Regions from separate parts of the Homo sapiens genome. Here all the other regions are reported to be linked to region 1. The links are microRNA targets in miRTarBase. Many come from high-throughput screens and were not tested one by one. Region 1 holds a microRNA gene; each other region holds the end of a gene's coding sequence.
The links. The annotated mature microRNA hsa-miR-7106-3p reads AGCUCCCUGAAUCCCUGUCCCAG and lies in region 1 at 1,760-1,782, shown strand. An mRNA with a match to its seed (bases 2 to 7 or 8) in the 3' UTR can be bound and repressed. Matches are read on the target gene's strand: a 7mer-m8 pairs with bases 2 to 8, a 7mer-A1 pairs with bases 2 to 7 and ends in A, and an 8mer does both.

Region 1 (3,352 bases):
GGTGGAACCTTGTGCAAATGCAGGCCATTTTCACCTGCAAAAATGGCATTTGCATGTGGTTCGACCTGACAGTGAGCATGAATTGATTCCCTGTGGCATCCTTAGGAGTGACGTTCTTTTTAGCAATGCTGTGGGGAAGTTCATGTCACCAAAGACGCAGTCAGAAGCAGCTTTGGTTCTGGGAGGAGGCGATCACAGGGGATGTTGAGGAAGATACTTCCTTGAAATGTGGGTTGGCAAGTGGTACATTTGGTCATCTGAGGACTTGGACCTCTTTGATCTGGCCTGGGTCCCTCAGCCAGTAACAAGCTAAGGTGGATTTGAAGCCGGCTCTGTCTGCCAGAGCCTGTGCTTAAGGGCTGTTATCAGGGAGGGGCTCCCGCTTGCTGGGTGCAGGCAGGCTCTGTCCTGGAAGGCCACACATGACCTGGGAGGCAAGGTGACTGCGAATACCCATTTTACAGGCCAGGAAACAGGTGCCTTATGAGGGCTATGACTGAACCTGGGTCACCCAGCTGCCCAAGGCTCCCACCTGGAGTCTTCCCTGGGGAGAGGGGAGTTTGGGACCATGTCTTGGGTCTCTCTCAGATGGCCTTAGCCCCTGCTTGTGTCCCTCCACCTCCTGGGGCTGGTCACTGCCTCCCCTGGGTGTCTCTGTGAGCCTGCGTGCATTTGCCTGGGCCTGTTCTCTGTGGCTCCTCCCTCTCCAGCTCTCCCATCTGTGGGAGTGTCTCCTTGTCAGCATGGCTGGGTGGGGACCACCCACACCTCACTTCTCAGCCTGTTTTTACCTAGGTGAAACAGCAGCTTCTGCTGCGAGCATTGCCGTGCAGTGGGCGTGCAGGGGCTGGGGAGACGGGGGCGACCTGTGGGCTTTGGGAAAAAGCAGCTGTTCTTCCTTTGCTGTCCTCATTGGAGGTGATAGGTCCTGCGAGGCACCCTGGCTCCATTGGAGACAGCTGGGACCACCTTAATGGTCATCCCTCTAGGAGCCCTGGGGAGGCTGCTGTTATGAATGGGGAAGAGGAGGAGGAGGACACAGGGCTTAGTGGGAGCCAGGGAGGGTGGTGCTTGCCTCCCGGAGAACTAGAAGAATGGACTACCTGATGCCCACCTGTGGGGCTGGGGCAGGGTCGCTGACCTCTGCTGCTGCTGCTGCTTTGCTGTGTGATCTCAGATAAGTCCCTCTCCCTCTCTGGCCTTCTTTGATTCCTCTCCCACCTAAAGGAAGGTTCATCTACACTCTTTTTTCATCTAACAAGCCTAGAGCATGGTGTCCATGGAGACAGAGGCTGAGGTCTGTATCGGTTACTATGGGGGGCCTCAGAGCCTGGCGTGCCGTAGGTGTGCTGTGGAGACATACACTCCTTGGTTGGAGAATTTTTAATAGTAACAGTCATGCCCAAAAGGCTCCCACTATGGGACAGGCCTTGAAATTCTGACCACTTTACACCATGGAAATGCATTTACTCTTCACCCATGAGGGAGGTGCTGTGATTTATAATTCATAGATGGGGAAACTGAGGCACAGAGCCGTTAACTTCTTGCCCACGGTCCAAGAGGTCACAGCTGGGATTTGAACCCCAGCGGTTCTGGCCCCGTGTTATTGACCACTCCATGAGGCTGCCTAAAACTTTATTAGCCACCTACTGTGTACAGACACTGGGCCACAGCAATAAGCACAGAACAGGAGTAGGGGCAGGGGAGGAGTCTGCAAGCTTCTGGGAGGAGGGGATCTTGGGAGTGATCCCAACAGCTGAGCTCCCTGAATCCCTGTCCCAGCAGGTGCATCCCGGCCCCACGCCCCAGGCACCCCTGCAGGCCGAGTCCGCCCGGAACTCAAGACCAAGCAGCAGATCCTGAAGCAGCGGCGCCGGGCCCAGAAGCTGCACTTCCTGCAGCGTGGTGGCCTCAAGCAGCTCTCTGCCCGCAACCGCCGCCGCGTCCAGGAGCTGCAGCAGGGCGCCTTCGGCCGGGGTGCCCGCTCCAAGAAGGGCAAGATGCGGAAGAGGATGTGAGGACCAGGACCCAGCCCCGTGGCTCCTTGATTGGCCTTAGGGTGGGCATCAGCAGACGTTCCCGTGCACCACTGTGTGCCTGGCCCTGTGCTGGGCACTGGGGGCACTCCCTGCAGGAGCCATCATCTGTGAAAAGGAGCACTGTATGGCCACAGAAGGGCAGCAGCTGCGTCAGCCTAAGACAGAGACATTTGAACAGGGCCTTGAAGGGTGTGCAGGAGTTCGCCAGCAAAGCCAGGCAGGCCAAGACTTGAGTTGGCAACTCAGCTGCTGCTGCTTCCATGTGTTCTGGGTTCAGAGGTCATGGCTGCACCGGTCAGAGCCCTGAGTGCCTCAGGGTTTGGCAATGGAATTTTTAATGTAATAAATCTTTATTGAGCACTGCTGGTGGCCAGGAGTGCGGTCTACTTGGGGAACTGGAATGGAGAGACCCAGGTACTAAAATCCCAGCTAACGTGGCAGAGGAGTTGCGGGTCTCCTGAGGGTGAGTTCTGCTGCCTTGTCCATTTAGCGATGAGGAAAGTGAAGCTCAGAGCACAAACCAGGTGCCAGAGGCGGGAGTTGGTCCCCCTTCCTCCCACTGGACATGGTTGCAGCTGGGAGTGGGCTGGGGGAGGGGAACAGGATGCCCAGCCCAGGGGGCAAGGACACAGCTGCTCCCCTCTGGCTATGAAGAGGTTAACGCGGCCCCTCCACACCTGGAGGTCAGAACCTGGCCTGTCCTCTGTCTTCTTGCCACCCACCCCCTGTTTGAGGTTCTGAGAAGGTCAAGGGCAGCCCCAGCAGCTGGATTCTCAGGCTGGGCCCCTCACCTGGCAGAGTCCATAGTGGAGGGGGCCTTGGTGATCTCTCATCTAGCATGGACCCTGTTCTGAGACCTGACAAAGAGTTTTTTTTCATGCCCCAACCACCCTGGCAGGGAGGGCCTGGTCTGATCTCATTTTAGAGGCAGTTGCCCCACACATAGCCCCTTGACCTTCCCATCACCTCCTCATCAGGGCCTGCATTTATGGAGTGCTTGCTATGTGCCCCTCATGGCAGGCCCACAGCACTCTGAACAGGCACAGCCCTCCCATCTTCCCAATGAGGAAACGGATTCAGGAAGAGCCACTCAGTCCACACCCCATTGGAAATGTGGGCCCTCCTATCTCAGGGTCTCTCAGGGGTTCCCTCTCCCGCTGCTCACCTGTGTCAGGGCTAGGAGGCAGGGGCTGCAGGCTCAGCCTGACCCAGGCCGGCCAGCATGGCAGAGAGGTCCTGCATGAACAGCTTCACCTGGGGGGGCCCAGCACGAAGTCACATCCCAGCCCCAGAGTCACTGTCCAGCCCCCACC
Region 2 (3,000 bases), not on the chromosome of region 1:
GTCAGGAATGTAACTATTTATGTGCTAAAAAGTGTAAAAAACTGTCAGAACATAGCACAGCTCACACGCTAATTTTAAGCTCTACACTGACCTGTAAACTCCCTGACAAGAAACTATGCTAAAAAGGGGTTAAGTACAGATATTGCTAGGTTTCCAAAGGAAAAGTTTTAAAACAGACACCGTGGCTTTGAACAAAGTATTGCTCTTCTTTAAAATGATCAGTCATTGCTTTCAAAAAGAGGGTGTCAGAGTGGAGTGTCTGAAAGCTGGATAGCCTCAGGGTGTCACATTGCTCTTAAGACCAAGACATAGAAATTGCCATTTCAAGCCAGACAACCTGATGGTTCTAGAAGTCAGAGAAGAAATCTTGAGGGCCCAAGTGAATAATAAATGGTGCGACGCTCAGAGGCTGGCAATAGGGGCTGTCAATGAAAAAACCACCTACAGTGGAGAAAAGAGCAGAGAAGCAAAACTTCATGTTAATCTCAGGCAATTTGGTGAAGCCAAGAGCTTCATTTATATTTCTCTGCTCTTTCAGCTGTAAGTGGAATTTTCATTACAAAATGGAAGGGTGGGAAGGGCAACAGGTGGGGGGACACTTAATTCATTACAGAATTTAAACAGTTGAACTTGCATGGTTACCACTTCTAACAAAGGACTGACAGCTCGATTATTTTAAGTAAAGCAGAGAAATGTAAAAGTTTGCAGCAACTGGGCAGGTTTACAACATGGTTAGTAACTTCCAACAAACAACAAAATTAAAAAAAAAAAAAAAAGACTTGGTAGAAACCATTTGAAATGACTGCCATCATGTTGGAAAACAGCACAGCTCCCTTTTCACCATTACAGAGCGCGTGAGTTATGAAGCAGAGTCAGCTACTTCAAAAGAATTTTCTAACGAGAAATATCTAGAGATTCCAACGTGGAATCCAAATTTGATGACCAATTTCAAATAACAATACAGCCGCAGCTGCCAATTAATAGTATTCCAAAGACAATGAGGACTACTGTAAAGATTTAATTAATAAAAACTGGACACTATCAGCCATGCTTTTTCTTCTCAGTGATGGCTCTGTTTCATCCATAGGTCAGCAAAACGCATCAATGAAACATGAAAACTCCCAGCTGAAATGGGCCCTCTTGTTTATGTCTAGCCACTAATGCACAGGATGAGAATGATAAGTTACAGCTATTTCCAGCAAGTGATGAGGTTTTATTAAAGTATCACCCACCACTAATAAAGACAAAAGACCAAGGAGAAGAAACAAACTAATCATTGTGTAATATATATCTGAGAAGTGACACTAACATTTGTTGTACATTGCCCATTTCACCTTTATTTAGTGGTCCCGAAGGAATTTGGTACATACATTTGCCATATTTTGTGAAGCCCATTCTCATGGATGGGCCCTGTCAAGTTCCCAAAAGCAGAACTGAATAGGGAAAATGAAAGCTAATTCATACTAAAAACAGACATTTTTAAGACATGGTGCCTTATAAATATTGACAGGGGACCACACTGCTGCTCCTTCATGGGGGTGAGTACCTTAATGAAACCATTGACCTAGTAACATCATTGGCTTTCCAAACAAGGTGAGAATGCAAGTGGAGGACTTAGGTCTGCACCCTTTACAGAACAGCACAATGTTACCCACTGATCCATTTCCACCAGCATCATCAGGTGTCTTAAAAAGAAATGCTGACCCATGGCTGAAACCTGTCACTTTTCACAGCAGCACTCAACAAGAACTGGGACAATCGAAGAGCAAGTTTTTATGGGGACCCTGTTGCTGCTTTAGATTCTGATGTAATTGAAGAGGAAAGGAGACCCTTCAATGAATCCCAGCAAAATCACTAATCTTCTATCTGCATGAAAAAAGCCAGGGAGTGAACACAATATCTTACAGAGTGAAGAAGGCCACAAGAACAAGAGAGGGTGATTGATTGATTAATTTATTATTTTTAAAAACTTGGAAATTCATAAACTAGGATAATCACATTCTCCTTCCCCATCTCTGGGTAGTGCCATCATTTTAATAAGCAATGCTCAAATAACAGAATGGAACCTTTATCATGGGGATGGCCCTTGTACAACAGGAGTACAAAGGGCTTACAAAGTGAGTAGACTGGCTCAAACTAACAATCACCTTTGCTTTGTTTTAGCACTTTGCTTACAAGTGAATGGGCTTCTAGGGCTAAGTTATTAGTTTTCAATTCCTTGTAATTTGATACCAAAACATATCAAAAATAATAAGCTAAAACAATATTCAAACCCATATTTTATTGGCTTTATTACACACTTCAATATTTACAAAGTTAAAGTTAAATGAAAAGTCTCTATTGTATTAAAAAAAATAACTACAGCCCAAATTAAAGTGCCCTGGGGCAAATACATATCAATCAACTAAGAATCAGTGACTGCATCAGGAACCAGGCAGTACTCTGTGTTACAACAAAGCAGTTTATTTGTGATCAGTGTTTGAGACTCTATACATCCTTCACAAATTTAATTTTACATAATCTGATACGTCTCTTAAAACTTAAACTTTGAACTGCTAGACTTTTATTTCCCTAGAACAGAAGGGCTGGTATAAGTTATTTTCCAGAAATGAGGTACCGTTTTCACAGAACTGGTTTCTTTTTTTTTTTTCAAGTTTTAGAGAACTAAATTTGCATTTGTTAAAATCAAAAAGTAGGAAAGATGTTCTTTACAAATAATTTTGATCAAGTATGTGTTCAAAGAAAGCAGGATAAAAAGGCTTTTTCTCTAACATTCTGTGTTGTACTGTATTGTTGTTCAATAGGAATTAGCTTCTGTCATTTGCTAAAAGAATGAGTAGTGGGGAACAGGATATGTTGGAAATTTCATAACGGGTAACAGAACCATTCTCTTGGGTAAACCTACAGAGAAAAGAAACGGAGAGGACTCCAAATAAGTTTTAATACTCCAATAAAAATTTCAGGTAAAAAAATATCTGACAGTAATTATCATTAACCTTT
Region 3 (3,310 bases), not on the chromosome of region 1:
GTTTGTTTGTTAATGGAAAAAATTCACACTGCATCTAGTTACTATAGTATTTCTAAGCATAATCAATCAATCACAGCTGATTGATTGAATGCAATGTGATTGATTGATTGATTGATATATACCAAAATTCATATGGATGTCACACAGTGACAGCATTGTACAAGTAACGTTAATGACCTCCAACAAACACATTTTAAATTAGACTGGTCAAGCTAAAAGGAATGTTGGAGCCAAAAGAAATGTAGTGGAATTCAGATTGTCTATTAAGACTTGAAACTATACATTAGAATGATGTGGAACCCTAATACTAGCAGCAACTGTTACAGCCCTCTTAAAAGATTTGTAAGAATCTAGCAAATAAAGAAAGATAATACCATTTTTGAGAGAATATAAAACTTCTTTATATACTTCAGCATAACCTACTTGCTTTAAATCAATCAGGCATTTATTTTAAAACTGGGAGTATATTCCAGCTATTGCTTTTATAAAGGTTCTAAAATGAAGCAGATTTAATGCTGGAATGCAGAATCCTACCGTGGGTATAAAAACCCAAAAGTGAACTATAAATATATCTTGGTTCAGAAATCTAGATAGATAGATATCTAAATCACTTGAAGTTGGCAGTACTAAATAAAATATCAGCACCTTTTAGCTAGGTTGCTTGAAGGGCCAAGCAATGAGATGAGGACTGTCCTAATTCAGTGCCCAATGCTGAAAATTAATTATATATAAAACTTCTACTTATTATAAGGAGGCCATGGAGTAAGTCAGAAATAATTTTTCAGATTCAAGCATAAATTAAAGAAATAACACCTAAGCTCCCTTGCTTATAGCATACAGAAAAGACACTGGCAATAATCTATAAATACCTGGATGCATGTGCTGCTCTCAAAGTTTTGTTTTTGTTTTGAAGTTCATAGAGTAGGAGGAAAGAAGAGTACTAAATGAAAACATTTTAGATGGAATGGAAAAGAGTTTGGCTCTTATATATTTGAACAATAAGATAGATTGTTACAGCAGCTACACTGGTTGCCAAGCAGATTAAAACAAAGCTAGCTGCACATAGTTCAAATACAGTTTACCTGGCATAAATGAAGACCATGTGGCATAGGATGTAAACAGAAAGCTACATGCATATGACTAGTAATACAAATTATTAAGTAAAAATTCAGGATAAACATGGCTTGCACTTCTCACAAATCATTCACAATTATGGTAGGAGAACAGGGCACCTAAAAGACTAATCCCTATCAGGCACCAACAGCATATCTTGGCACAAGATGATCAAGTGATTTCAGCTGAGTAATTTAAATGCATCTTCCAAGTCACTTGGGTACCATGACAGCCATGGCAATAATGGAGTTTATCCTAGTAACTGTTCTAAATTGACACTTCATGTACACATTACAGACATGGTAAACTTCGATTTTCTGCTTTACAACCTTGTAGCCAGCCACGACATGTGCTCTTGGTTCCAGTGCCAAACTGGTAAAGCAATGTGAACATTCAGAACTTACATTTCCCAATTAACTAGTTGGTACTGTTAAAATAGGAAAATCAACTATTTAAACCACGTCTGGTTCATTTCTTTGATATTTTCTAGAGGGTTACAATTTTTTAAAAAGACCACATGCTCCAAACCCTCACCTACCCCCGCCAAAAAAAAAAAAAAAAAATCAAAACAAAATTAAAGTAAAAAACAAAACAGAAAGAACACCCCAACACCAAGTATTATAATAATACAAAGAACCATTATGAATCTTTCATTAAACTGAAGCTCACACAAACATACAATCACAAATTTCAGTAGTTTAGGCTGCAGGTTTAAACACTATGCAAATATATACAAAAATAGTAACTCTAGATTCAAGAATAAGGGCTTTTCCCAATGCTAAATTCATACTCTAATGCAGCCTGAGCTTTCCTCTAGTTCCTATGTCTACTTTATGCAGTTTCAAAGTTGTGTCAAGTTGATCCCTATCACCACATGAATATATGTAGCTGAATTAAAGAGCACTACAATTCATTCTTAAAACACACAAAAAATGTCTCCCCAAAGTCCATTTAAAATATTTTTAAAGTTTAAATGATTTTTTTTGGTTCGATCTCTATTTCTGCATAGCCACAGAAGTTTCTACTAATAAAGAGACTAGTGTTTTATATGATTATTTTGTGAAAAGTCTTAATCAAACATATCAACACTGGTTCATGGAGTCCCATATTCTCCTCTCTTTATCACAAGCTTTATATTTTTAAAAGACCCCTACGTGCAGGGAAAACAGTACTAAGCACCAGCCTCTTGTGGTTAGGCTCAAATCTATGAAACTTGTAAGTAGTGCAAGCCACTGACTTTCCTTTGAGCAATGTGCATACAGTACAAGGAACAGATGCAAAGCTGCATGGTAACATTCTCGTAATCAACAGTGATTACTGGGAAAGGTCAAAACTGGATGTCAAACACAATTTTATCTTCATAGAGGGCAATCACCAGCATAATGGCAAATCCAAAGAGCAATCCTAAATTCTGAAGGATGAATTGCCCCACAGGACAAAAGCCATGTTCTTCATTGTCACCATCACCATGCAACATTTCTGGAAGCTAGAAAAATAAATCTTCACATTAAACTTTGTATAATACTTCTGCTCAAAACAGTTTTTAAAAACATTTTCCTACTTAAGAAAATTAGTGACTGAAGTGTAACTACAGACAAAATAATTATTTTATTGAACACAATGCTACCCACCAGATGTATTTTAGTCAAATACTGAAGAAATTTTATGCTTTTGCTAGGAAATACTAACTCTGTTCCCTCCTCCTCATCCCCCACAACAAACACTTAAAATATGCACATTAGTCATTTTTCAAACAGTTACTATCCACTGACCTTATAAATTCTGACATTTTACTTTATGCTAAAGCATAAAGCAACTTATTACCAATAAGACACTCCAAAAACCGATCACCACAATTCCCACATTTACTAATGTATCTTAAACTCAATAAGAAAGCAAGATTCTTGGGCCGGGCACGGTGGCTCACGCCCATAAATCCCAGCACTTTGGAAGGCCGAGGTGGGCGGATCATGGGGTCAGGAGTTCAAGACCAGCCTGGCCAATATGGTGAAACCCATAAAAATACAAAAATTAGCTGGGCGTGGTGGGGCACGCTTGTAGTCCCAGCTACTCGGGAGGCTGAGGCAGGAGAATCATTTGAACCTGGGAGGCAAAGGTTGCAGTGAGCTGAGATCACACCACTGCACTCCAGCCTGGGCAACAGAGCAAAACTCCATCTCAAAAAAACTTTTTTTTT

Region 2: the mRNA of STRBP is a reported target of hsa-miR-7106-3p. Seed matches in the 3' UTR shown: 7mer-m8 at 829-835.
Region 3: the mRNA of SLC39A10 is a reported target of hsa-miR-7106-3p. Seed matches in the 3' UTR shown: 7mer-m8 at 818-824.

What each region holds. Positions count from the first base shown.
Region 1 is chr12:113,157,543-113,160,894 of GRCh38, reverse strand. MIR7106 (microRNA 7106) reads left to right here and starts at 1,718; the gene lies at 1,718-1,782. It overlaps CFAP73 (cilia and flagella associated protein 73), which reads right to left. Exons shown (of 8, transcript NM_001144872.3): 7 at 3,205-3,293; 8 at 1,619-2,194. The coding sequence ends at 3,216. It overlaps DDX54 (DEAD-box helicase 54), which reads left to right. Exons shown (of 20, transcript NM_024072.4): 20 at 1,786-3,352. The coding sequence ends at 2,018.
Region 2 is chr9:123,122,773-123,125,772 of GRCh38, forward strand. It overlaps STRBP (spermatid perinuclear RNA binding protein), which reads right to left. Exons shown (of 19, transcript NM_018387.5): 19 at 1-2,901. The coding sequence ends at 2,825. Among named protein-coding and RNA genes, the nearest start is that of MIR600HG, 8.8 kb to the left of the region's middle.
Region 3 is chr2:195,734,172-195,737,481 of GRCh38, reverse strand. It overlaps SLC39A10 (solute carrier family 39 member 10), which reads right to left. Exons shown (of 10, transcript NM_020342.3): 10 at 1-2,599. The coding sequence ends at 2,441. Among named protein-coding and RNA genes, the nearest start is that of SLC39A10, 79 kb to the right of the region's middle.